Homo sapiens: one gene and its partners. The protein of the gene in region 2 purifies or fractionates together with the protein of the main gene of each other region. This does not show direct contact. Each region holds a gene or a part of one and is shown on either strand. Other genes may lie near its edges.

Evidence for each region. Proteins that work in one complex are often made in the same cells at the same time.
Region 1: the proteins of PHB1 (region 2) and VDAC2 purify together in Homo sapiens (affinity purification with mass spectrometry; 4 studies listed by BioGRID, with this or other methods). This does not show direct contact.
Region 3: the proteins of PHB1 (region 2) and CANX purify together in Homo sapiens (affinity purification with mass spectrometry; 3 studies listed by BioGRID and IntAct, with this or other methods). This does not show direct contact.

The regions. Positions count from the first base shown.
Region 1 is NC_000010.11:75,220,756-75,227,795, reverse strand, and holds part of VDAC2 (non-selective voltage-gated ion channel VDAC2), read right to left. Parts: coding exon 6,826-7,040; intron 5,545-6,825; coding exon 5,394-5,544; intron 1-5,393. UniProt on the Homo sapiens protein: Non-selective voltage-gated ion channel that mediates the transport of anions and cations through the mitochondrion outer membrane and plasma membrane.
Region 2 is NC_000017.11:49,404,883-49,411,882, reverse strand, and holds part of PHB1 (prohibitin 1), read left to right. Parts: intron 1-43; coding exon 44-205; intron 206-2,409; coding exon 2,410-2,552; intron 2,553-2,724; coding exon 2,725-2,841; intron 2,842-5,028; coding exon 5,029-5,124; intron 5,125-6,678; coding exon 6,679-6,891; 3' UTR 6,892-7,000.
Region 3 is NC_000005.10:179,701,927-179,708,966, reverse strand, and holds part of CANX (calnexin isoform d precursor), read right to left. Parts: intron 3,289-7,040; coding exon of another isoform or gene 3,286-3,288; coding exon 3,115-3,285; intron 2,710-3,114; coding exon 2,636-2,709; intron 1,836-2,635; coding exon 1,777-1,835; intron 729-1,776; coding exon 587-728; intron 1-586. UniProt on the Homo sapiens protein: Calcium-binding protein that interacts with newly synthesized monoglucosylated glycoproteins in the endoplasmic reticulum. It may act in assisting protein assembly and/or in the retention within the ER of unassembled protein subunits.

The DNA.
Region 1 (7,040 bases), on a different chromosome or scaffold from region 2:
GGCCAAGATGGTGAAACCCCGTCTCTACTAAAACTACAAAAATTAGCCAGGCACGGTGGCAGGCGCCTGTAATCCCAGCTACTCGGGGTGCTAAGGCAGGAGAATCACTTGAATCCGGGTGGCAGAGGTTGCAGTGAGCAGAGCAGAGATCGCACCACTGCACTCCAGCCAGGGTAACAAAGTGAGACTCTGTCTCCAAAAAAAAAAAAAAAAAAAAATTCCTATTATTTAACAGTAAGAGTTAAACCATGAAACTGTGATAAGGAGTAGAAAAAATAAACTCAGTTTCTCCCTCTATACTCTCATAAGGCCTAGGGAGAATTTCCCACACATCAAGCAAACGATTCTGCAGCAGACTCCAGCTAGATGTTCTCTAATTCAATTCTGATACTATCTACCTGGAGAGAGAGCATCGGATCACACAGGTTCAGGGCTCAGTTTCATAAAACTGCCCCGCCCTCATTTTCAATGCTAACTGAAAGCTCCAGGTTCTTTTGCCTCTGCTTCTTACAGACTGGTTATAAACTGGGGTTCCCACAACCCCCTGGGGTTCAAGTAATTTCCTAGGGTGGCACACAGAACTCAGGGACTAACACATTTACCAGTTATATAGGATATTTTAAAGGATATAAATGAACAGCCAGATGAAAAGATACTTATATATCTTTTCCTTTATAGGTGAGGTCTTGAAGGGTCCCAAGCACAGGAGCTTCCATCCCTGTGGAGCTGGGGTGCCCCACCCTCCCATGACATGAATGTATTATTGTTTACCTTCCTGAAGGCCCCCTGGACTCAGTCCTTTGGGTTTTTACAGAGACTTCATTACAAAGGAGACTTCATTACAAAGGCACGATTAATTAAATCACTGGCCACTGGCTCAACCTTTAGCTACTATGCCCTCCCCAAGGCAGAAGGTTTGTTCCCTAGCAACCAGCACCCCCTACCATGTGGCCATCTAGGGACTATCCAAAAATCACCTCATTAACATAAGTTCAGATGTGGTTGAAAGAGGCCTGTTAAAAATAACAACATAGCCCAGGGCGCAGTGGCTCGTTCCTGTTACCCCGGCACTTTGGGAGCCAAGGCAAGTGGATCACCTGAGGTCAGGGGTTGGAGACCCACCTGGCCAACACGGTGAAACCTCATTTCTACTAAAAATACAAAAATTAGTCGGGCTTGGTGGCAGGCACCTCCAAACCCAGCTACTAAGTAGGCTGAGGCACGAGAACTGCTTGAACCCGAGAGGCGGAGGTTGAGGTTGCAGTGAGCAGAGATGGTGCCACTGTACTCCATCCAGCCTGGATGACAGTGAGATTTCATTAAAAAAAAAAAAAAAAAAAAAAACCCACAAAAGACTGTCTTTCACTTTTATGCTCTGGAGCTGTTTCAGGAACCGAGGACAAATGGCCAAATATCTCAACAAAATACACTCTTACGGCTCTAGTCACTTGGGAAATTGCAAGGGTTATAGAAGCTGTGAGCCAGGAACTTGACAAAAACCAAAATATATACACCATAGTATCATAGGCCACCCCCTGGTTTCAAACAGGGATCCCTTACAGCAAAAAGGTCCATATATCTGTCAAGGATGTTTACACTTGTTGCATTTATATAACAGACATATCTACAAGAGTACAAACACAAATATGCCTATCATCTGGAGAAGCTACTGTGGGATAGGGATAGGTTTAAAGAAGCAACTAGGATGGGCGCAGTGGCTCACACCTGTAATCTCAGCACTTTGGGAGGCTGAGGCGGGCGGATTACCAGAGGTCAGGAGTTTGAGACCAGCCTGGCCAACACGGCGAAACCTCATCTCTACTAAAAATACAAAAATTAGCCGAGTGTGGTAGTGGGCACCTATAATCCCAGCTACTCAGGAGACTGAGGCACAAGAATGGCTTGAACCCAGGAGGTGGAGGTTGCAGTGAGCCGAGATCACGCCACTGCACTCCAGCCTGGATGACTCCGTCTCAAAACAAAACAAAACAAAACAAAAAAAACCTACTCGGTCCTATGAAGAGAAAAAAAAATAGCTCAGCAGTATGAGGAATGTGAGGTATGCAAAGTTTATCAGGCCCAGAGAGACATGAGAATGAGACTTTAGTCACAGGACACACCCCCATGCCTAGGGGAAATTGTTTAAAAACACTTTGTTCTTTTTTTCCTTCCTTGTAGTTTCCAGGCTCGCTGGCAAATATCTAAAGTGTTACTGCACAATGTGACCCTCACCCATTATCTTCATGTTCCTGGAATCTGTGATACAAAGAACAATGTATAGCCAATCACTAATCAATGTTATTTCTGTAAACCAAAGAGAATTCCTGCCAAACAACTTTGTATCAGCCCACATCCTGTCCCGAATTTTTGGCCTTTAAAAACCTGTTTGTAACAAGGGCCAAATGGAGCTCAAATCCACTTGGATCTGAGTCTGCTGGGCAGCTGTCCTCATTATGGTGCAAATAAATTCTTTAAAATTGTATTTTGTGCCTTAGTTTCTTCCTTTAGGTTGACAGAAGCCATTAGAAACATCTTTATCATCTTGTACCAGCTTTCTTTTCCCTTGATCTACTGTTATTTGTACCTTGTGCAGAACTATTCAGGATGGAAATCAGCTGATAGTGAGATCCAGTTCCTCCTCAGGCCAGTCACTTTCCATAGGTATTATATCCTGAGGAGGCTTCAACTCAATTTCACAATACATATAATCATCAATCAGTATTATAAGACTTATTTACACAAGGGAGTTTAATCTGCCAACAATATTACCATATGGCAGTATGAGCATGGTACAAAAAAAATCAGTTTCGTTACAGATCAGTAAGAATTAGAGATATTTGCTTTGCCTTTCCAACAGAAATCTACCCTTCCCCATTTGTCAGCCTTTATCTTGATTAATAAGCCTGACTACTGCCCCAGGCAATTTCAGATCACATTTCTCAATGTAATCTCTAACTTCTGACTTTTTAAATTTCTCCAAACTGGGCAAAATACAGCAAATACAGGTCTTAGGGGTACTTTTTACCCTTGCAAGGTGGCTTTGAGGCTGGTGGCCAAGGCTTAAACCAAATGAAACCTGAGCTTGGTCTAGCATCAAGGTACAATCCAGCACTCTTTCACTTTGATTTTAGCTATCACAAATAACAATAATCAAGGGATTGTATATTTTGTTTGTTTCTTATTGTTTGCGTTTCCTTATGCACCCAGTGAACCAACTCCCTTGGAGTTGGATCTATCTTTGAATTCCACTGGTAATTTTTAAGTACCTGAGCACAGCACAGTTGTGGCTCCATAGCAGGGGTGACCATCTGACCACCCAGGAGTCAAAAGTTCCTCATTTCCCATCCATTTATCCTTTTTCTTCCTAAACCATGCTTCGATGAGCCACTCTAGCTAGAGCCACTCTAGCAAATCCCAATCCTGACATCAATTCTGAGGATACAGAAAAAAACCAACTCAGTTTCTCCTACTATTCTCTCACAACACAGAATGCTTCTGTGACCACATGTGTGAGGGCTTTCCTCACACACCAAGCAAGCAATAATTTCTGCAGCAGACACTGGCTAAATGTCCTCTAATTCTACCTGGAGACATCAGATGCCACAGGTTAAGGGCTTAGTCCCACAAGACTGCCCTCCTCCCACTTCAGATGCCAACTGCAAGCCCCAGGTTGTTTTAACTCTGCTTCTGACCTGGCACCTCTAAACAGAGGTTCCCACAAGCCCCTTCTTGGGTTCAATTAATCTCCTAGAGCAGGTCACAGAACTCAAGAAACACTTTATTTACATTTACCAGTTTTAATAAAGGATATTACAAAGGATACAGATGAAGAGATGTACAGTGCAAAACATAGGAAGGGACACAGCTTCAATGCCCTCTCCAGACATGCCACCTTCCAGTAACCTCAGCTACCTAGCTCACTGACCTCTGTCCTTGTGGGTTTTCATGAGGCTTCATTATACAGGCATGACTGATTAAACCACTAGCCATTGGTGAACAATTAAACCTACAGCCCCTCTCCCCACCCCCTCTAATCACACCTTGGTCTCTCCACTGACTAGCCTCCAGCCCGAAGCTACCTAAAGGTGGCCAGCCACCAGTCAAAACTCATTAGCATACAAAAAGATACTTAATACTTTCGGGATTCCAAGGATTTTTTAGGAGTTCTATGCCAGGAGAGGGAAGGAGAACCAAATATATACTTCCTAATATCACAAGGAGCATTAAGCAATGCTTCTGGGTACTGCTGAATTGGAGTGGCAGCTAACATTACTGAAGTGGGAAAGGCTAGGTACATTTCCAAACTAATTCCCAGGAGTCATTAAATGACACAGGGGTCCCAAGCTGCCTTCCCATTTTAACTATGAACTCCTAGTAGCTGAGAGAAGCTTCTTCCACTTACATTAAATCTGTTAAAATGCCACAGACATCCAAGAACATCAATGTAAGTAACAGAATAGTGTACTGTATGAATCTTGAGGTTTTTATTGCTGTAGTGCAATTAGAAATGGAGAAGGCGGCCAGCTGTGGTGTCTCATGCCTGTAATCCCAGCACTTTGGGAGGCTGAGGCGGGTGGATCACTTGGGGTCAGGAGTTTGAGACCAGTCTGGCCAACAAATCCCATCTTTACTAAAAAATACAAAAAAATTAGCCAGGTGTGGTGGCGGGCACCTGTAATCTCAGCTACTCAGGAGGCTGAGGCAGAAGAGCTGCTTGAACCCAGGAGGCGGAGGTTGCAGTGAGCCAAGATCGCACTACTGCACCCCAGCCCGGGCGACAGAGACTCCATCTCAAAAAAGAAAAAAAAAAAAAAAAGACAAAGTGATGATTAAAATACTAGCCAGGTGCAGTGGCTCATGCCTATAATCCCAACAGCCTCCTTTGGGAGGCTGAGACAGGATGATAGCTTGAGCCTAGGATGGGCAACATATGGAGATCCCATCTCTACAAAAAAACATCAAAAAATTAGTTGGGAATAGTAGGAGGCTGAGGTTGAACCCAGGATGTCAAGGTGCCGGGAGTCGTGATTGTGCCACTGCAGTCCAGCCTCGACAACAGAGAGCCTTAAAAAAGCACTATTATTTCTGACACAGTAAGAACCACTCAGGGACCAAACACCAGCTATACCTGGACTTAGACAGGCCTATGGCTCAAGGTTATCATCAACATTAACTCGGCAGCTTTTGAGGTTAAACAAACTCCACCAGCCTGGCCTGGAAATAAAACGTCTAACACTGTATCCATCAAAAAAGCGCATTTCAAAATCTAAAACTAATCTATCTGTAAACTGGGGACTGTGTGAAATCAGTTCAAATTTTCAACATAATTCAGTATACCCAAAGACTCATTCCCACAACCAAAACCCCCATTCTAAGTCCACAAAAGTACTCACAGAAATGGAAGCAGTGGGATCCAACTGATATTTAGCTGCAATGCCAAAACGAGTGCAGTTGGTACCTGATGTCCAAGCAAGGTTTACTGAAGTGTCAAGATCTTCACAAACTTTCTGATAAATTGATCCTCCAAATTCTGTCCCATCATTGCTATAAGATATTTTAAATTAGTAGATCTAGAATAGACAATGTAATAATGTCTAAGGCACAGGCTGATTTGTAGCATTACATTTAAATAAAAAACCACAGCTCAAGTGGGTCTTTAGTGTTCCACTGAAAACTTGCAAGTTTTAACAGGTTTTTTTCCCCAACCCATACCCATACAGGGATTGGTAAAATGAACCACAGAATATCCATTCAGTGGAATTATCACACTGTATTAAACATGCAAGAGGTTCTCAAACAGCCTTTTGGTTACGTATTTTATATATAAGTATATATACACACACATATAAAAAGGTGAACCACAACATTAACAAAGATTATATACCTAGCTGGCATGATTGTAAGAAACGTAGGTTTTCTTCTTTGTGCTTCTGTTATTTACCAATGAATTTTTACAATGGAAAGAAAAACATTTTAAGTACTTTCTATGTATCTATCTAGTTTGGGCTAGGTAAAAACACCAGGCTGGATGCAGTGGCTCACGCCTATAATCCCAACACTTTGGAAGGCTGAGGCGGGAGGATCGCTTGAGGCCAGGAGTTTGAGACAAGCCTGGGCAACATAGCAAGACCCCATCTCTACAAAAATAATTAAAAACAAACAAACAAAAAAACAACAATAGCCGGGCACAGTGGCTCACGCCTGTAATCCCAGCACTTTGGCAGATCACGAGGTCAGGAGTTCCAGACCAGCCTTGCCAGCATGGTGAAACCCCGTCTCTACCAAAAATACAAAAATTAGCCAGGCATGGTGGCACACGCCTGTAGTCCCAGCTACTTGGGAGGTTGAGGCAGGAGAATTGTTTGAACCCGGGAGGCGGATGTTGGAGTGAGCCGAGATCGCAAAAGAGCAAGACTCTGTCTGAACCAAAACAAAAAAAGAAAGAAAAAAGAAAAAGAAAAAAAAACCCAACCACAAAACACCATACATTTTAGGCAATCCTATCAAGTCAGCATCTCACACATCAAAATAATTAAGTAAAATGAATGTACTGGTAGCAGTCTGCCAATATATAATGCCTCTTGTAAAAATACAAAGCACATTAAACCCCATATAAAATGAACATTTACTCTCTCAGCACCAAAGGTCAGACTAACAGTCTTCTACTATAAACTTTCAAGGGGCACCCTAGAAATGACCAAGAATGATTTTGTTTTTAAATGTTATGAGAAATCCTTTAGGGTGCACCCAGATCAATAAGATGACAGACATCAAAATCATCCTCTGAGGGCCCACATCACAGTATCCTATGAAAGAAATACTTACACATTAGTGTGTAGCTGGAAGTCCCCAGTCCTGTAGCCCACTGCAAAGTTATTCCTTGTCAGCTTTGATTTGGCACTGTCAAAGGTCATCTGGTAGCCAGCAAGCCAGCCCTCATAACCAAAGACAGCTGAACCATGGATTGCAGGTCCAGCAAAATCAAAGTCAACATCACAACCAAGGTTTATACACTCCCTCTTGTAAGAAGACTTGATTTT
Region 2 (7,000 bases):
GATGAGAGGATTTTTATGACATGTCATTGTCCTTTCTTCCTAGTGGATGCTGGGCACAGAGCTGTCATCTTTGACCGATTCCGTGGAGTGCAGGACATTGTGGTAGGGGAAGGGACTCATTTTCTCATCCCGTGGGTACAGAAACCAATTATCTTTGACTGCCGTTCTCGACCACGTAATGTGCCAGTCATCACTGGTAGCAAAGGTGAGTCTTGCCTATGGTTCAGGTAAAGTAGGGAGTGTGGAAGAGGTGCTCTGTTCTTCTGTGTCACAGGAGCATCTGTGGGATACCAGGATCCAAAAGAGTTTGAACTGTACATCATAGGAATGACTAGACTACTTGCCCTGGAGAGCTTGATATGGAATCTTAGAAATACCCACTTATGGCTGGGTGCGGTGGTTCATGCCTGTAATCCCAGCACTTTGGGAGGCTGAGGCAGGTGGATCACCTGAGGTCAGGAGTTCAAGACCAGCCTGGCCAATGTGGTGAAACCCCATCTCTCCTAAAAATACAAAAATTAGCCGGTGGTGGGGGGTGCCTGTAATCCCAGCTACTTGAGAGGCTGAGGCAGGAGAATTGCTTGAGCCTGGGGGGCGGAGGTTGCAGTGAGCTAAGATTGTGCCACTTCACTGCAGCCTGGGCAACAGAGTGAGACTCTGTCTCAAAAAAAAAAAAAAAAAAAGCCTGCTTCTAATCTTCCCATCTCTTTGGAATTTCTTTCCGTACTGTTTTGCAGTTGTTTTCAGGATACATTATGTACCTATTTCTAAAACTATTGATAGGAGCTTCCAGAGATCAGGGAGTTGTAGGTATTAATACATTGCCCACCTCTCTTGGTGCCCAGTTCAGGGCTGTCTCATGGGCGCTTGGTCCATATTGTTGACATCTGTAAGCAAGCCGTGACAGTGCTTTGGCTCCAGGCAGGCCTGAATTGTCCAGGGGAAAGTATAATTCTCTCCCTGGATCCTTTAAATGGTCCAAGTAATGAGAAGCAGAACATAGGATCAGTCTGTTAACCCCTTATATGTGTTACACATTTGACAGAGTGCTTTTACGTCTGTTTTCTCCTTCAATTTTCCCCAACATTTCCGCAAGGCCCAGAAAGCAAATGAAATTGTCCCCATTCTCATAGACAGGGAAATAAGCTCAGGTTGGCTAAGGCTTAGAGAGGCCACATCATTAGTAAATAGCCCAGATCTTTGGACTGATAGTCTAACACCGTTTCCACCAGACCCGAACTAACCTCTCCAAGGCTGACTCCTGACTTGGCCACAATCACCAGAGCATGTAAAGGCCTCACCCTACAATTCTTAGCATTGCCCTGTCTATTGTCTTAAAATGTTCAGTGTTGCAAACTTTGCATGGCACCTGTTAGACATATAATCTGAATTATGTATATCTGAGGGCATTCAGGGGATACCAAAAAGCTGCTATCACTGAAGCCTCTTAAGAAATTATAAACTCTTTATGATGCTCTATTGGGTTCTCTGCCAAGGAAACCAGGCATACCTGCACCTTGCCCTCTGGGATCTTATAATCAGCAGATTTGCTTATAAATTGTAGCAAATTTGGAGCCAGGCACAGTGGTGCGTGTCAGCTACTCAAGAGGCTGAGGCAGGAGAAATGCTTAAGCTCAGGAGCTTGAGTCTAGCCTGGGCCACATAGCAAGACCTTGTCTCTAAAAATAAAAAATAAAAATTGCCAGGCGTAATGGCTCACACCTGTAATTCTAGCATTTTGGGAGGCTGAGGCAGTTGGATCACTTGAGCCCAGGAGTTTGAGACCAGCCTGGGAAATATGGCGAAACCCCAGCTCTACAAAAAGTACAGAGATTAGCTGGGCGTGGTGGTCTGTGCCTGTGTAGTCCCAGCTACTTGGAAGGTGTAGGTGGGAGGATCAACTGAGCCCAGGAGGTCAAAGCGGCTACAGTGAGCTGTGATCTTACCACTGCACTTCAGCCTGGGCAACATGTGACCCTGTCTCAAAATACATAAATAAAAATTGTAGCAAATTGGAGTAGGAGAGGTCATATAAAAGACCACTTGTGGCCAGGTGCGGTGGCTCACACCTGTAATCCCAGCACTTTGGGAGGCTGAGGCAGGTAGATCACCTGAGGTCAGGAGTTTGAGACCAGCCTAACATGGTGACACCCTGTCTCTACTAAAAATACAAAACAGCTGGGTGTGGCGGCGCGTGCCTGTAATCCCAGCTACTCAGGAGGCTGAGGCAGGAGAATTGCTTGAATCTGGGAGGCAGAGGTTGTAGTGAGCCGAGATTGTCCCATTGTACTCCAGCCTAGGCAACAAGAGCAAAAACCTGTCTCAAAAAAAAAAAAAAACAAAAAAAAAACACTTGTTTTCCTACAGTGGTTTTTATTTTTAACTCCAGTGTTTGTCCCCTACCCTAAGATTTACAGAATGTCAACATCACACTGCGCATCCTCTTCCGGCCTGTCGCCAGCCAGCTTCCTCGCATCTTCACCAGCATCGGAGAGGACTATGATGAGCGTGTGCTGCCGTCCATCACAACTGAGATCCTCAAGTCAGTGGTGGTGAGTGAACAGGGGCCTTTAGCCTCGAGCCCAGAGCACCACCCTGGGAGGGTGCCAGGTGGCAGGAAGCGCTTGGCAGTGGGTTGGTTGGGATGTGGCTGCTAGTTTCCTGGTTCCTTTTCTGCTTCCTCATTAACCTGACCTGCCCTTCTGCTCCTCCCTTTGAAACCAGGCTCGCTTTGATGCTGGAGAACTAATCACCCAGAGAGAGCTGGTCTCCAGGCAGGTGAGCGACGACCTTACAGAGCGAGCCGCCACCTTTGGGCTCATCCTGGATGACGTGTCCTTGGTAAGATCCTTCGGGAGACCGAGGAGGGGAAGGGGCTGCAGTTCTCGTTTAGGTGCCTGGCTCCATTTCTGGGTAGACGCTATTAGGTCCTCCCTTCTGCTTTGCTAGATGTGAGACTTGAAAACACGGAAACATGCTGAGGTGAGGCAGTCTCCGTGGGTTTTTCAGTTGAGGGTTCTTTTACCTTCCCCCTGCCACACACATTTTTCTTATGACCTCTGGTTGTATCCAGATAGTCTCTAACCACTAAATGTTTTACCTTCTCCAAACTGTTACCCAGAGAGTGATGCCTTGTTAACCCTGTTTGACACAGGCAGAAACTGCCTGGTAGAGACCAGAGAACAGCTCGGGTAGTCCTTCTCCCTAGCACAGACCTCCCAGCCTGACTCCTGGGAGCTTCCTAACACTTTACAGTCCGAAGCTCAGTGAAGTAAGCTCTGGGAACCCCAGTGAAAGGTGATAGAGTGTAAACGAACGGTTGGATTCCCCCAGGCCTGGTATAGGGGGCAAGGGACATCTCTGAGGCGTAAGCTATCCTCTTGAGACACTATAGCTTGTGTGTTTATATGACATTGGATGTCATAACTCAGAAAGCAATGCAGGCAGGATAGCGTTTCAGGTTGAGGAGGGTGAGGGGAAGGGGTCGTGTTTCTAGATTCTCTGGGAAAAACCATTTGGAGTGATTTGTTCGGGCAGTGAGGTAAAGTGTTTCCTGTTCAGTTCTCCCGTGCATTGCTAGGGAAAGGCACTGCCTCCCCCGGCATCTGTGCAGCTGTTTAAACAGCCACTTGACAACACCCAGTGCTAACCCCTGGGCACTGCTCCACCTTGCTCCGCCTGCTGGAAGTCCTGGGGGCTTGGGGCTCCCTCTGCTGGCAAGAGGCCAGGCTGCAGCCATTCTGTGGGCCCTTCCCTCGTAATTACCGTTAACCTGAACACCTTGGCTGTGAGAAAACGCTGAGTAAAAACCTAAGGGAAAAGTTGGCATTTTACTAGACTTTAACCACATACTCCATTCTGGGGAAATGTGGGCTGACCACAAGAAACCCTATCTAAGGTGTGAGAAGAAAATTAGGTTTCATGGGGAATTTGCTGCCCTCAGCTGGCCCTTGTAGAAATAAATTTTATTCCTTAATTATACATTTCATTTTTCATGTCTCAGGATCAGATTTTCTTACCCAAACTTTGACTAAGAAACTAGAAATGGATCAGGCGAAGTACAACAGCTGCAGTTAGAGTTAGGAGGTTAAAAATTCTGGAAGAGAATGAGACCAGGATTTACTCTTCAGGAGAAGTTTGGAGCTGCTTTTTTAAAAAGCAGAGGTTGGGAGAGTGGAGGAAATGAAACAACTAGAATTTGATGGCAAAACCAATGCTCTTCTCTTGATTCTTTTTCAATAAAAATTAGGATGAATAAGTAAATTGCTCTAGGCTGGGCATTAGGAATTCTGAGGTCCCTTCCCATTGTTTGTGCTATCTTTAGGGACAGTCCCGTCAGACCTGACATGATTAGGGAAGGTCTATGGATCATCAGACTTCTAAACCCTCATGCCGACCAATGACTTTACCTGCTTTCTCTTTCTTTTAAACCGTTTAACAGAACCATTCACATTGGGAATACCATGATTTGCGTTCCACCGTCCCTCGTCCTCTTCCTGTTCAGTGGTGGAGCTGCTGTGGGAAGACGCGGACTGGTTAATCCATAAACAGAGAGCATCAGGCTCTTGGATCCCTGGGAACCAGCTGCCTCCCTCACTCTCAGGGACCCTGTTTTCCATCTGGCCTTCCTTGGGCTTTGAACAAGGCATCAAAGGCCCTTGGAAGAGCACTAGTCAGTGGCGGGGGTCTTAGAACCCACAGTTCTCCTCCTCTGGGGAGGTGGTCGATTGAGTAGATACCTTCTGGTGCCTGTGGGCCCCATCAAAAGCCCCCGGTGCCATTTGCTACATGAGGTCACTGTACTGAGAGTGACAGAGTAATATACAGGAGCAGTTTGGGCAGCCAGAGAGTCTGGGTGTAAACTCAGTTTGGATACAGATACGGAGGTGGAAGAGTGTTCTGGCCTCACGGATGCCTCCAGCTGCTAGAGCCATTGCTGGCCTCTTCTTCCAGCGGCCATGGAGCCCTCCCAGCAGTGCTGTCGAAGCAATCACACTGCCTCATCTTGTGCTCACTCTCTCCCCTTAGACACATCTGACCTTCGGGAAGGAGTTCACAGAAGCGGTGGAAGCCAAACAGGTGGCTCAGCAGGAAGCAGAGAGGGCCAGATTTGTGGTGGAAAAGGTGAGCCTTCGACCAGATGGCAGGAGCCTCTCTCTCCCCTTTCTCCGGCACTCAGCTTCCCCATTTGCTGGGTGGCCTGGAAATTCATCATCTGTCATCCCTTCTTCCGGGATAATCAGAAGGGGCTTGAAGGAATTGTACTTCTGCAATTGGTTCCAGAGTCTTCAGGGGCTAGTCAAGGATATGTGGAGTTATGTTCCTAAATCACTGAAGGGTAATTTTTCTTCCACTTCTCTGAGATCAAAAACACTCTCTTACAAATAAAAATGTTTCTCCTGGAGTATTTTCAGCTTCACTGAGAAGTCATTTTTAACCATAGTTACATAGTGAAAGCTGACAGCAAAAAAGATCAAACGTTGCACCAGATGTGCTTTCGTCACTAGATTTTTTTCTAGTGCTAAATCCATCCAGATGTGTCAAAGAATGTGATGGGACACAGTGTATTTGCGTAGCAGCCTGGTCTTTCTGGTATTTGCAAAGACATGTTCATTTATTGTTGTCCCCTTCTTCCCACCACCAGTATCCCTAATTGGTGGGGAGATGGGGACAGCAAGAAATAAAATGGGAAAAGAGGGATAGATTTAATTTTGGAGAATGAAAACACTGTGTGGGCAGAGACTTGTGTTGCTTTGTATCTGCCATAACTTCAGAGATTATAATAAGTCTAGTACAGTGCCTGGTGATAGTAGGTATACAGTAAATGTTTGTTGAGCAAATAGACGCAGGGCCCAGTCATTTCAAAATTGTATGTAATTTCAGGGAGGCTTAATACTGTCTTCTTCCTCACACTCCTGAAGGTCACACGTTGCAGAGAGCTGTCTTCCTATTGATATTGGTAGGGCAAGCCTAGGAGATCTCACTCTGGGTGCCTGGATTCTGGTCAGGAACCAGCCTAACTCACAGGCAGCTCTAGGAACAGTCAAAAGTGCATGCTGCTCTTCCTTAGCCATCCCGAGGTTTTTTGTTTGTTTGTTTGTTTGTTTGTTTGTTTGTGACAGCTCTGTGGCCCAGGCTGGAGTGCAATGGCATGATCATAGCTCACTGCAGCCTTGGCCTCCTGGGCTCAAGTGATCCTCCTGCCTCCGCCTCCCAAAGTGCCAGGATTACAGGCATGAGCCACCACACCCGGCCCTGTCCTGGCTTTGATGAAGTCCTTTAGACTTAAGGCTGGAGGAAAAGATGAGCCTTGAGGATTGATTCCACCTTTCTTTTGCTTCTGTTTTCCTTGGCCTTGGCTTCTCCTGGCTCAGAGTAGGGTTGTTAAACTAGATTGCAATTAATATTAATGAGGACTTTGAAATAAGACAAATATTCCTGCAGCCAACAGAGATGTATCCCTCCCGTGACAAGGAGTGAGCATGAAAGGATAGGGGAGGACTGGTGGGCAATGTGCTCTGCTTCCCCCCGCTTCCCCCGCTAGCCATCAGGAGGAAGTAAACTCCCCGAGTTCCTTCAGGAGCCTGGGAAGGTGGCTTTCTGGTGAAGGGCCTTTGGTTGTAGCCTGACATGCGGTGCCCTGAGGTTTGATCTTTGTCTCCACCTCCATTCTTTTAGGCTGAGCAACAGAAAAAGGCGGCCATCATCTCTGCTGAGGGCGACTCCAAGGCAGCTGAGCTGATTGCCAACTCACTGGCCACTGCAGGGGATGGCCTGATCGAGCTGCGCAAGCTGGAAGCTGCAGAGGACATCGCGTACCAGCTCTCACGCTCTCGGAACATCACCTACCTGCCAGCGGGGCAGTCCGTGCTCCTCCAGCTGCCCCAGTGAGGGCCCACCCTGCCTGCACCTCCGCGGGCTGACTGGGCCACAGCCCCGATGATTCTTAACACAGCCTTCCTTCTGCTCCCACCCCAGAAATCACTGTGAAATTTCATGA
Region 3 (7,040 bases), on a different chromosome or scaffold from region 2:
GAGAAAAGCAGAAAACTGTATGGCATTTTGAAAGATCGAAACTCTCTTAATGTATTTCCTCTCTCCCTCATCTTAGTCACGTTTTATCATAGGTCAAATGTTTACCCTTACAAAGGATTCCATCTTCTATTGTTTTTGAATAGTTATCAAATGCCACAAAAATAAATAAAATTAAATTGAACATTAATGCAGATTTCCAGTAAATTTGTTCTGCAAAATCTACAAGTTATTTAGAGTCAGGAAAATGAGTAACCAGTTTCTTTCAAAATAATGCATTAGGCAGGAAAAACTATTAATTACTAGTTTTGTAATTAATTAATTACAAAAACTATTAATGCAGATTTCCGGTAAATTTGTTCTGCAAAATCTACAAGTTATTTAGAGTCAGGAAAATAAGTAACCAGTTTCTTTCAAAATAATGCATTAGCCAGGAAAAACTATTAATTACAAGGTGTTTAAATTCACCCAAAAATCCCTACCACCACTTATATAATCTCATAATTTTTTAACATAGAGTAAAAGTTACATAATGTCTTCTAAGATTACCCTTTGCAGAAAGCTTTTATCCAACAAGCATTTCACTTACTGAACAATGAGAGGCTTGGTGTCAAACAGGAAGGGCTTGTTCAGTTTAGCAGAGATGGCATGATGCTTGGCCCGAGACATCAACACAAGTCCTTTATCACCTGGAAGCTTTGACTCCTTCATTTCCTCTACCTCCCACTTTCCTACAAGACAACACAAAAAAGTTCCACTGCTTAACTCTACCTCTGAAGGTCCTTTAAATGCCAAAAAAAACACCTCCTAGTTGCATAAATATATTATACTGGGGCAGCCGTGGTCGCTCACACCTATAATCCCAGCACTTAGGGAGGCTGAGGGCAGGCGGATCACTCAAGGTCAGGAGTTCGAGACCAGCCTGGCCAACATGGTGAAACCCCATCTCTAATAAAAACACAAAAATTAGCCGGGCGTGGTGATGGGCACCTGTAATCCCAACTACTCGGTAGGCTGAGGCAGGAGAATCGCTTGAACCCAAGAAACAGAGGTTGCGGTGAGCCAAGATCACGCCACTCTATTCCAGAAGCCTGGGTGGCAAGAATGAGACTCCGTCTCAAAAAAGTAAATAAATAATAAATAAACACACTTTATTTGGCAAATATTATTCAGATATGGCTTTTTAAAACTGTAGTGTATTATACTACTGTCTAGAAATTTCCAACATTCAGTAGCACAGGTGATTAAACAGATCTAATCCTATTAAATATAAGGCTACACATGCACCCCTGAACCTTAAATAAAAAAAAAAAAAAAAAAAAAATTAGGCAACACACAAAGGTGGCAAAACTTCCATGGAAAAATCTTTTTTTTTTTTTTTTTTTTGAGACGGAGTCTCGCTCTGTCACCCAGGCTGGAGTGCAGTGGCGCGTTCTCGGCTCACTGCAAGCTTGGCCTCCCGGGTTCACACCATTCTCCTGCCTCAGCCTCCCCAGCAGCTGGGACTACAGATGCACGCTGCCACGCCCAGCTAATTTTTTGTATTTTCAGTAGAGACGGGGTTTCACTGTGTTAGCCAGGATGGTCTCGATCTCCTGACCTCGTGATCTGCCCGCCTTGGCTTCCGAAAGTGCTGGGATTACAGGCGTGAGCCACCGCACCTGGCTGGAAAAATCTTAAAGCCTACTATGTCCTTTTAAACTAGTCTTAGGAAATGCCATGGAGACAACATGTCAAACCTCTATCTGCTATTATATCTAAACCAAATGGGATTCTCACCATCATATTTGGCAATTTCATCATCGGTATCGTCTTTCTTGGCTTTGGATAAAATCCACCTGTAAATAACAAATCCCAAAATCAGTCTTAAAATGACAGTTGACTTGTGAGGGAAAATTATGTAAATACTCATTAAAGTAGGACCTATTCTGCTCTTAGCCTATTTAACCACTCTACTTCCAACCTTTAAATCTGTCACACAACTAATGATAATACATTATCTTCAACTCACAAACCTATATGAAAAAGTACCAAACCTATGAGATAATTCCACTGATGTTTTAACATCAAGAGAAAATTTTTTTCCTCAATCAAAGAACAAAATATAGGGTAGAGTGGGGGAGGGAAAGAAGTGGAAGTAAAAACCACAAATTCCAAAAGACTATTTTCCTGCATGGATGTTAACACTGAAGATATTAAAGCTAGAAATTTCAGGCCAGGTGCGGTGGCTCATGCCTGTAATGCCAACAATTTGGGAGGCTAAGGCAAGTGGACCACCTGAGGTCAGGAGTTCAAGACCAGCCTGGCCAACATGTCAAAACCCCATCTCTACTAAAAAAATAACAACACACACACACAAATTAGCCAGCATGGTGGCGCATGCCTATAATCCCAGCTACTTGGGAAGCTGAGGCAGGAGAATCACTTGAACCCAGGAGACGGAGGTGGCAATGAGCCGGTATCACGCCATTGCACTCCAGCCCAGGCAAAAGAGCGAAATTCTGTCTCAAAAAATAAATAAATAAAATAAAATAAAGTTAGACATTTCACTATAAAAGATGCTATCCAAAAAGGAATCTACTATCCCATCTTATTTACATGTCTGCCTCTAACATATATTTCTCTGGAAAACACTTACCCTGACAGAGTTCCTCTGTCAAAAGAATCAGCAAAATATACTTCCCCTGTTGGAACTGGAGCTTTGTAAGTAACCTGTGTTAAATACATAAATGAATTAAAAATTTAAATTTTCAGCAACATGCCTTTTTATCTAGAATCTATTCTCCTGGTTTGCTTTCAACTGTCACAAAAATTTCATAGCTGGCCTTCAAATTCAACCCATATAATTGGCCTCTAGCAAGACAAAGGCTGCCAGAGAGATCAATAAGTATTTTCACGAATTTTGCTTTCCCTTTGAAAACGTTCCAAATTTATCTTCACCATGTTTTTCTTTTATATTTTATTAGAGATGATATCTCCCTGTGTTGCCAAGGCTGGACTCACACTCCTGTCCTAGGCCTCCTGAGTAGTTGAGACTACATTTCCCTGCACCCGGGTATCTTCATAATTTTATCATCTCAAGACGTAAAAGGAATAGATTCAAAGACCATTTCAAACCTTGGGAGATGAAGGAGGAGCAGTGGTATCTGGTTTTGAGTCTTCTACCTCTTCAATGACATCGTCAAGGTCATCCTCAATATCAATCACATCATCATCATGTCCATCATGAGCCTCAACAATAGCAGTTCCAAGCACCAGTAACATACACAGCAACCACTTCCCTTCCATGATCTACACATAAAGAGCAAAATCAGTTAAATGTATTGCCACCTATCAAACTTCATGAAGATCACTAACCACTCTCTCATTTAAAATTAAAGCTTTTAAATCGCAGAGCTAAAAAGAACTTACTATTTCATTTCATAGATAAAGAAAGGCAGCCTAGAGAGATTAAAGGGTTTCCCTAAAATCAGTTAAAAGATTCCATTTCTGGAAAATTTCAAAATAAAACTGAAACATACACAACATCCTCATATAGAGAGGATTGGTTACACAGATGTGGGGCATTCAAATACAATTTCCAACAAACTTTTGCATTTGTAAAGTGCTTTACAACAGACAAAAGCCCTTTCATACACTAATTTACAGGGGGTACCCGTTAAAACATTACAATGAAATAACAGAGATGGCCGGGCGCCGTGGCTCACGCCTGTAATCCCAGCACTTTGGGAGGCCGAGGCAGGTGGCTCACTAGGTCAGGAGTTCACAACCAGCCTGGCCAACATGGCGAAACTCTTCTCTACTAAAAATACAAAAATTAGCTGGGAGCGATAGCGGGCGCCTGTAGTCTCAGCTACTTGGGAGGCTGAGTCAGGAGAACTGCTTGAACCCAGGAGGTGGAGGTTGCAGTGAGCACGCCACTACACTCTAGCCTGCGTGACAGAGCAAGAGTTCGTCTCAAAAAAAAAAATTAACACAGAAGATAATTCCTCTCATATTAAGGCTTAATATGGATACGGTTGCTCAAATATCATCAATAGACATGTTTTCAAATTAGCGTTTTAGAACTCAAAAAGAATATTAAACTAAGAACAAGCTACTTTTTAAAATTTATATATTTTATTTATTTATTTTGTGATGGATTCTCCCTCTGTCGCCCAGGCTGGAGTGCAGTGGCACCATCTCAGCTCACTGCAACCGCCGCCTCCCAGGTTCAAGTAATTCTCCCACCTCAGCCTCTTGAGTAGCTGTGATTACAGGCACCCACCACCATGCCCGGCTAATTTTTGTACTTTTAGTATAGACAGGGTTTCGCCATGTTGGCCAGGCTGGTCTCGAACTCCTGACCTCAGGTGATCCACCTGCCTCAGCCTCCCAAAGTGCTGGGATTACAGGCGTGAGCCACTGCACCTGGCCAAAACAAGCTCCTTTTTTTTTTTTTTCCTGAGATGAGTCTTGCTCTATCGCCAGGCTGGGATGCATTGGCACTATCTTGGCTCACTGCAACCTCCGCCTCCTGGGTTCAAGTGATTCTCCTACCTCAGCCTCCCAAGTAGGTGGGATGACAGGTGTGCACCACCACATCCAGCTAATTTTTGTTATTTTTAATAGAGACAGGGTTTCACCGTGTTGGCCAGGATAGTCTCAATCTCTTGACGTCGTGATCTGCCCGCCTCGGCCTTCCAAAGTGCTGGGATTACAGGAGTGAGCCACCGCACCCGGCTTATCTCTTCTTTTCTAACCACGTAAGCGCCCTGTGTATTATATTAGATGTGTCTTGGGGTAGTGGCTCTCTTTCCACGGAGGACCACAGATCTAAAGAAATAAAAACTGAGCTACACAGATGCACAAGATGATGTGGTTGGTAGCAGGTAAATTTTCATTTTTGGGCTTGAGAAAGTACAGGTACAAGGTGGGGGAGAAAACAAGTAGAAGATACACAACTAAAAATGTGTGCGCACACACACACAAGATGTCCTTTTCTCCTCACATCCTCTGCCCACACAGTCACCCAATCAATCATAGTCTTTCACTCTTCTCCATTACTGACATCAGGATACTTAATGTTACCTTATATTACCAGGGCCTCTAGTTTCCTCCTCCTCTTTCAAGCTATCCTACAAGAAGACTCATCACCCAAAAACTATCATGAGTCCATGTTTGCAAAAATTTCTAAGTCTTTTAGCTAGTAATCAGCACCCTCTCCCTCTATAGCTGCTCTACATGCTATTCCCCCAGGAATCTTCAACTTCCTCTATTAAGACCTTATTTCCCAGCCTGGCCAACATAAACATAGCCTGACCCTGTCTATACAAAAAAAAAAAAAAATTATCCTGTCTCTACAAAAAATCAAAAAAAGAAAAATTTAGCCAGGTATGGTAGCACACACCTGTTGTCCCAGATACTAAGAAGGCTAAGGTAGGAGAAGCCTGAGTCTGACAGGTTGAAGCTAAGTGAGTCGTTGGGCAGGGTGGGGTGGCTCACGCCTGTAATCCTAGCACGTTGGGAGGCTGGTAGACTGCCTGAGCTCAGGAGACCAGCCAGGGAAACATGATGAAACTCCGTTTCTACTAAAATACAAAAAATTAGCCGAGTGTGGTGGCGCACACCTGTAGCCGCAGCTACTCAGGAGGCTGAGGGAGGAGAATCGCTTGAACCTGGGAGGCGGAGGATGCAGTGACCCGAGATGGCGCCACTGCACTCCAGCCTGGGCCACAGAGACTCCACCTCAAAAAAAAAAAAAAGACTCCACCACTCCACCAGGCGCGGTGGCTCACGCCAATAATCCCAGCACATTGGGAGTCCAAGGCAGGCAGATCATCTGAGGTCAGGAATTCGAGACCAGCCTGGCCAACATGGCAAAACCCTGTCTCTACTAAAAATACAAAAATTAGCTGGGCAGGCTGGGCGTGGTGGCTCACACCTGTAATCACAGCACTTTGGGAGGCCGAGGCAGGTGGATCACCTGAGTTCGGGAGTTCAAGACCAGCCTGACCACCACGGAGAAACCCTGTCTCTACTAAAAACACAAAATTAGCTGGGTGTGGTGGCAGATGCCTGTAATCCCAGTTACTCAGGAGGCTGAGGCAGGAGAATAGCTTGAACCCGGGAAGTGGAGTTTGCAGTGTGAGTTGAAATCACGCCACTGCACTGCAGCCTGGCCAACAAGAGTGAGACTGTCTCAAAAAAATAAAAAATAAAGTGAGCTGTAATGGCACCACTGCATTCAAGCCTGGGCAACAGAGTAAGACTGCCTTAAACAAACAAACAAACAAACAGAAAAAGAAGGCAGAGTTTCAGAGATATTTGCAGACCCGTGTTCATAGCAGTACTACTCACAACAGCCAACAGTCAGAAGCAACCCAAGTGTCCATCAATGGATGAATGATTAAACCATATGTGGCATAGGCATACAATGGAATACTATTCAATCTCAAAAAGGAAGGAAATCCCATCACCGGCTATAACATGGATGAACTTTGAAGACAATATGGTAAGTAAAATAAGCAATTCACAAACAGATACCACAAAGTTTTAAAAAAGAAGGAAGGAAGGAAAGGAGGGAGGGAGGGAGGGAAGAAGGGAGAGAAAGAAAGCTGAGCTTAATTTCTGGTCTCCTGGTTGGCATCGTGGCTCGCGCGTGTAATCCCAGAACTCTGGGAGTTGGAGGAAGCAGGATGATCGCTTGAGCTCAGGAGTTCGAGACCAGCCTGGGCAACAAAGCGAAGTATCTATGAAAAATTAGGAAAAAAAAAAAAATTAGCTGAGTGTAGCGTCATCCGCCTGTGGATCCAGCTACTCAGGAGACTGAGGCAGGAAGATCACTTGAACCAATAACAGCAGGAGTTTGAGACTGCAGTGAGCAATAACCACGCCACTGCACTCCAGCCTGATGAAGAGCAAGACCCTGTCTCTAAAAAAATAAGTAAGGCTGAGCGCGGTGGCTCACACCTGTAATCCCAGCACTTTGGGAGGCCGAGGTGGGCGGACTGCCTGAGCTCAGGAGTTCGCAACCAGCCTGGACAACCCGGTGAAACCCCGTC